Homo sapiens: one gene and its partner. The protein of the gene in region 1 interacts with the protein of each later gene in a biochemical or structural test. Each region holds a gene or a part of one and is shown in the gene's direction. Other genes may lie near its edges.

Region 1 (3,500 bases):
CTCTATTTTCTCTATATTGAAAATACACAAATGTGCTTTTCAAATGTTGTAACAAACAAGTATGTCATTAAAAGGGTCTTCACTCCAGATAGATAAGTGGTCACTTAACTCTAAGAAGCATGTGGCTGAATTAAATATGTTAACTTAAATTTTGTTGCCAAATAAAATAGGCATGGAACAAAATAGCTGCTAACCTTTGTAGGTCCCAAATATGCTAAGCATTTTCAGCATGAGTGGTCAAGGTGATTCTATTTTTAGATAAACAGAGTTTTGAATTAGAAGGATGCATATGTTTAGGTTATGTTTGGTTTTAGATCTGAGGAGTTTAGAGTTGAAAGAGTCTTCAGAGAGGTCATGTAGTTCAGCGATCTGGTTTTCAAGGTTTTGGAACTGAGACATAATTGATCAATTCCAAGGCTGTGTTTTTGTGGACTTCATCTTGAATCAACAAGATGTTTTAATATGAACCCCACATTAATCACATCATAAACAGTAATTTCTTAATAACCTAAACTTTATCAGATTACTTTGCTTCACCTGACTGGGGAATGTACATTCTGACTTACAGGTGCCTTATCGCTTGCATGCAGTTCTTGTTCATGAAGGACAAGCAAATGCTGGACACTATTGGGCCTATATCTATAATCAACCCCGACAGAGCTGGCTCAAGTACAATGACATCTCTGTTACTGAATCTTCCTGGGAAGAAGTTGAAAGAGATTCCTATGGAGGCCTGAGAAATGTTAGTGCTTACTGTCTGATGTACATTAATGACAAACTACCCTACTTCAATGCAGGTAAAAGTATCTTGGCAGAATCTATAGATTGGGGAAAATCTGTACTGCTCAGGGAGAAGAACAGTCTTGTACTGCTTTTTAAAAAATTTACAACTTACTATTATATAATAATAGATTTAAAAAATATAGACAGTATAAAAGGAAATGAAAAGGAAAAACAAGTTTGCTTTACTACTTTCTTCCTTGACCATGGGTCCCACTCCCAACAAGTACACAATGTTAGGTTTCTTATGTAGTCTTCAAGACACATTGTATACATATGCTAGATTCTATTTATCTGTATCTTCCCCTCCCCCTTTTCCCCAAGTAGATTATTTTTCCATTCAACTCTGAACCTTTTTCATTAATCGAGTATTTAGCAATCTCTATATTTTTAGTAAAAGAATCTTAACTGTTTAACAACTATATAGTAATTCATTGTGTGGAATATACGTATTTTTAAAATTTACTCGTAGATAGACTAATTCTCTAGTTGTTGTTGTTTTTAGTGACATCTTTTTTTTTTCTTGCCCCATCTTATGGTGCTGATAGTACATATATTTTTGCACCCTTTGGAGAATAACTAAATTTTTTCTTTCTTTTTTTTTTGAGACATAGTCTTGCTTTGTCGCCCAGGCTGGAGTGCAGTGGCGCAATCTCAGCTCACTGCAACCTCCGCCTGCCAGGTTGAAGTGATTCTCCTGCCTCACTCTCGCAAGCAGCTGGAATTACAGGTGCCCACCACCATGCCCAGCTGATTTTTGTATTTTTAGTAGAAACGGTGTTTCACCATCTTGGCCAGGGTGTTTTTGAACTCCTCACCTCAGGTGATCTGCCTGCTTCGGCCTCTCAAAGTGCTGGGATTACAGTTGTGGGGCCCAGAATAACTAAATTTTACAGGTGTATTTGCCTGAATAGTTTCACAGTTGTTGTAATACTACTACTCATACAGAGAGCAATAATAATTATCATTTATATTGGTACTTTACTTCTTAAAGCATGCTTTCAAACTTTTATTTCTCTAAGAACTTACAGCTGTGAAAAGGAGGGAAAGAGTTTGAAAATGTTGTCATCTTCATTTTCCAGCTGGATAACAGATTCCAAAGGGTTCTAAAGTTGAGTAATCACATAGTCAATAAATGGCAGTCCCAAGATTCAAATACAATTCTCCAAATTCTGTGGTGTTTTCAATTTACATTATTCTCTCTTTCTTTCACATCCTCTATGAGAGGTCTTATGATGAACATTTTATAAGTAAGATAGTAGAAAGCTTTTGCCTGTAGTATTCAAACTTTACTGTGTGGCGTAAGTAAGGAAACATCGCCCCGGCATGGTGGTTCACGCCTGTAATCCCAGCACTTTGGGAGGCCAAGGCGGGCGGATCACTTGAGGCCAGGAGTTGAAGACCAACCTGGCCAACATGGTAAAACCCTGTGTCTACTAAAAATACATAAATTAGCTGGGCATGGTGGCACACACCTGTAATCCCACCTACTTGGGAGGCTGAGGCAGGAGAATTGCTTGAACCTGGGAGGCAAAGGTTGCAGTGAGCTGAGATCGTGCCACTGCACCCAGCCTGGGCAACAGAGTGAGACTTTGTCTCAAAAAAAACAAACATGTAAGGTGTTCTGTCCAGGCAGCACGTTATCTTTCTGATTTGCTAGTGTGGTTGGGGATTAGGGAATGGAGAGAATGATAAATGAACAGTAAGTAATCTTCACAATTGTATATTTATGCTGCGAAGGAATGAATAGCTGCTTGAATGTACTAGCTGTTGTTAATATATAGGAGCCTTGTTATTGCATGCATGGTTTATTTTTCTATTATAGAAACAAACAAGTGGAAACTGTCATTTGCTTAGTGAAAAGGCTGATTAATGGCAACCAGTAAGTGAATGTGTTAATCTGCTATAGACTTTTTTTGTTTGTTTTGGTCACAGGGTTAGAAAATGAAATTTTATATGTCATTGATATCCTTGCCATTAAAGCCAGGTATTATTGACCATTTCACCATTGTATCAAATTGCTTTCTCATAGTACTGAATTGTATGAAAGTTGGTGGTATAAATGTCTTGAAATTCATCTCTAACCTTTTTGAAATGGACATTCTTATCCGCCAAATGCAGTGGTTAAATGGATAAAACTGTTTATCTTGAAATTTTTATTGGCTCTAATGATTTTCTGAATTTCCCTGAAATGATTGGTATATCCAGTGATTGACAGTGACCAGTTTCCAAATCTTTTTTTTTTTTTTTTTTTTTTTGAGATGGAGTCTCACTCTGTCTCCCAGGCTGGAGCGCAGTGGCGCAACCTCAGCTTACTGCAACCTCCTCCTCCCAGGTTCAAGCGATTCTCCCACTTCAGCCTTCTAAGTAGCTGGGATTACAGGCATGCGCCACCACGCTTGACTAATTTTTGTATTTTTTTTAGTAGAGACAGGGTTTCACCATGTTGGCCAGGCTGGTCTTGAACTCCTACCTCAAGTGATTGGCCTGCCTTGGCCTCCCAAAGTGCTGGGATTACAGGCGTGAGCCACTGCACCCGGCCCACTTTCCATATCTTTAACTCTGTGTTATTCATTCACTTAGCAGATGTTTAATGAGTGCCTACTAAATGTCAGGCACTGTTATCAATTGTTGCCCTTACATTGTCCATACAGGTTGAGCATCCCACATGTGAATATCCAAAATCCCAAATGCTCCAAAATCCACAAAACTTTATGAGC
Region 2 (3,126 bases), on another chromosome or scaffold:
GTCTGAAGAGCAGATGGTCTGTACTGTGTTTAAGGTCCACATAATCACTTAGCTAGATTCCATGAAATTCCTACAAAAATGACTAATATGAGTTTCACCATTATCTCTTGATAGGAGCTTGCAAAACCATATGGCAGCAGTAGTGGTTAGGGATACATCTTCTATACGCACCTCAAAAAATCCCATGGTGACTAGTATTGTTAGGGGAACCATGAACTCTACCTGAATCTTAAGGTTCTGAGGCCAATGTTGTAGTTAGAGACACCATCATCTCTTGACTACCTGCTGAGAAAACATATGGTGGCAACCCTGGTCAGGATACATGTCCTTCCATCTGGACCCCTGATAATTCCATGCATACACTCACTATAATCATTAGGGCAACCACTAAGTGTACTTGGACACTCAAGAGAAGTCCAAGGTCAACATAGTAGTTTCACACACTGTCTGTTCACTGGACTCCTGCAAAAATCCCATAGTTACTACTGTGGTGAGGAACTCTGTGATATCTTACCCGGATACCTGCTAATATCTTTGTCACTACTAAGTTTGAGAAAGATTGTCTCTGAACTAGAAAACAGTAAAATCTAATGGTTACTACTTTTGTTAGGCACATACATTTCTTACCTGAACACCTGTAAAAACACATGGATAAGAAAAGAGTTCAGGACATCATCATCAGTTTTCTAGATGTCTGAAGATCATTTGGTCACTCATGTTTTTCAGGTCCACATAATCTCTAACTAGGATACCAGCAAAGTCCCATCTTCATTGCCACTGTGAGTTTTATTGTCATCTATTGACTGGAACCTACAAAATTCTATGGCTATTATTGTGGTCAGTGACATCATGATAACTTAGCCAGACAGTTCCAAAATCCCATGGTGTCCATTCGGTTAAAGCCCATGTTATTTCTCTCCCAGTTACCTGCCAAATCTTCTGTTTAGTGCTGTGGTAAATTTCACCTTTATTTACTTACTAAAACCATGCTGACAAGCATAATTAGAGAGACATTATTTTTATAGGACATCTGAAATTCCAACGGGCACTACTATGGTGCAAGTCACCATTATCATCTATGGGATAACTCCAAAATCCCATATTCACTTTAGGTTTACCATCAGCTTTTGACTGGATACTGGCAAAACCACCTTGGTCACAATAGTGCTTTGTGACATACCATCTCTTACCTGAATACCTGCAAAAACCCATGGTCTTCATAAGGTTTGAAAACCTAACATCTGTTACATGGCTATCCACAAACTGCCCAGGTAACTGCCATAGCTGGGCATACAACATCTTCCGGCATACCTACAGAAACTCACGGATACAATTAACATGGATTTCATCTTTCATGAGAAACAGGAAGGTTTCCTGTGTGCTCAGCACTGTCTGAACAATCTATTGCAAGGAGAATATTTTAGCCCTGTGGAATTAGCCTCAATTGCACATCAGCTAGATGAAGAAGAGAGGATGAGAATGGCAGAAGGAGGAGTCACCAGTGAAGAGTATCTTGCATTTTTACAGCAGCCTTCAGAAAACATGGATGATACCGGTTTCTTCTCCATTCAGGTAATAAGCAATGCCTTGAAGTTCTGGGGTTTAGAGATCATCCATTTCAATAATCCTGAATATCAGAAGCTCGGCATTGATCCTATAAATGAAAGATCTTTTATATGTAATTATAAACAACACTGGTTTACTATTAGAAAATTTGGAAAACACTGGTTTAACTTGAATTCTCTCTTGGCGGGTCCAGAATTAATATCAGATACATGCCTTGCAAATTTCTTGGCTCGATTACAACAACAAGCATATTCTGTATTTGTTGTCAAGGGTGATCTGCCAGACTGTGAAGCTGACCAACTCCTGCAGATCATCAGTGTCGAAGAGATGGATACACCAAAACTTAATGGAAAAAAATTAGTAAAACAAAAAGAGCATAGAGTCTATAAAACAGTCCTTGAAAAAGTATCAGAAGAAAGTGATGAGTCTGGAACATCAGACCAAGATGAGGAGGATTTTCAGAGGGCCCTTGAACTAAGCCGCCAAGAAACCAATAGAGAAGATGAACATCTCCGCAGTACTATTGAGTTAAGCATGCAAGGTAGTTCCGGAAACACATCGCAAGATCTTCCAAAGACATCATGTGTAACTCCTGCTTCAGAACAGCCGAAGAAAATAAAAGAAGACTATTTTGAAAAGCATCAGCAGGAACAGAAGCAGCAGCAACAACAGTCAGATCTGCCGGGCCACAGTTCATACCTACACGAAAGGCCAACAACAAGTTCGAGAGCAATTGAGAGTGATCTCAGTGATGACATCAGTGAAGGCACAGTACAGGCCGCTGTCGACACCATTTTAGAAATTATGAGAAAGAATTTGAAAATCAAAGGGGAAAAATAATGCCTTTAAAAATAATTTAGATAGTCATACTTTCCAACATTATCCTGTGTGATTATACTGTAGGATCCATTTTGGTCATCTGTCAAAGAGATGAGGAAATAAGGCTTTTAGACAGTTTGCAAACAAAATGACGAGAGAGATGTGGGACTAAATAATGATCGTTCAACTACTAGCCAAGGAGACATTCAGCAATTAATTAAATTTAAATTAGCTTTCAAAATGTTCCTTTGATTTTTGAGCCTGCAATATCTAATGTGTCTAAAATTGGGTCATTTTTCATGGATCTTTTTGTATACCAACGAATTAGCTCTTGCCATAGAACTTTTTCCATATAGTCTCTTCTATTGTAGATAATGTGGCTCATTTTGGTTGCTTTTATTTCTCATGAAACAATTTAACCTTTCAGGGAAGTGTCTCTTGTCTGTGTTGATCATAGTAACGGTTTTAGAAGGATAAACAGTTCTCCCTCCAACTATGTACTGTGCGCTTAAGTATATTCTTATGTTATTTCCTCTGATCACAATTTCTGCTACCTGGTCCTTAATTATTTTCCACAAGTCTTTCGAAATATGGTAATATTTTCTGAGGTTTTGTTTTTTACGCCCTCTGTGGTAAGATCATTATTTCATGACTCTGGTGCATTACTCTTTCTTTGTTTGGGGGTGGGGTGATGGGGGCAAAGACGCTCTGTCGCCCAGTCTGGACTGCAGTGGCCCAACC

The links. Proteins that work in one complex are often made in the same cells at the same time.
Region 2: of the proteins of USP28 (region 1) and ATXN3L, one has a biochemical effect on the other in vitro, tested with the Homo sapiens proteins (one large-scale study listed by BioGRID).

Annotation. Positions count from the first base shown.
Region 1 is NC_000011.10:113,809,573-113,813,072, reverse strand, and holds part of USP28 (ubiquitin carboxyl-terminal hydrolase 28), read left to right. Parts: intron 1-568; coding exon 569-797; intron 798-3,500. UniProt on the Homo sapiens protein: Deubiquitinase involved in DNA damage response checkpoint and MYC proto-oncogene stability. Involved in DNA damage induced apoptosis by specifically deubiquitinating proteins of the DNA damage pathway such as CLSPN.
Region 2 is NC_000023.11:13,318,147-13,321,272, reverse strand, and holds ATXN3L (ataxin-3-like protein), read left to right. Parts: upstream 1-1,219; 5' UTR 1,220-1,338; coding exon 1,339-2,406; 3' UTR 2,407-2,626; downstream 2,627-3,126. UniProt on the Homo sapiens protein: Deubiquitinating enzyme that cleaves both 'Lys-48'-linked and 'Lys-63'-linked poly-ubiquitin chains (in vitro). Acts as a deubiquitinating enzyme for the transcription factor KLF5, playing a role in the regulation of KLF5 stability.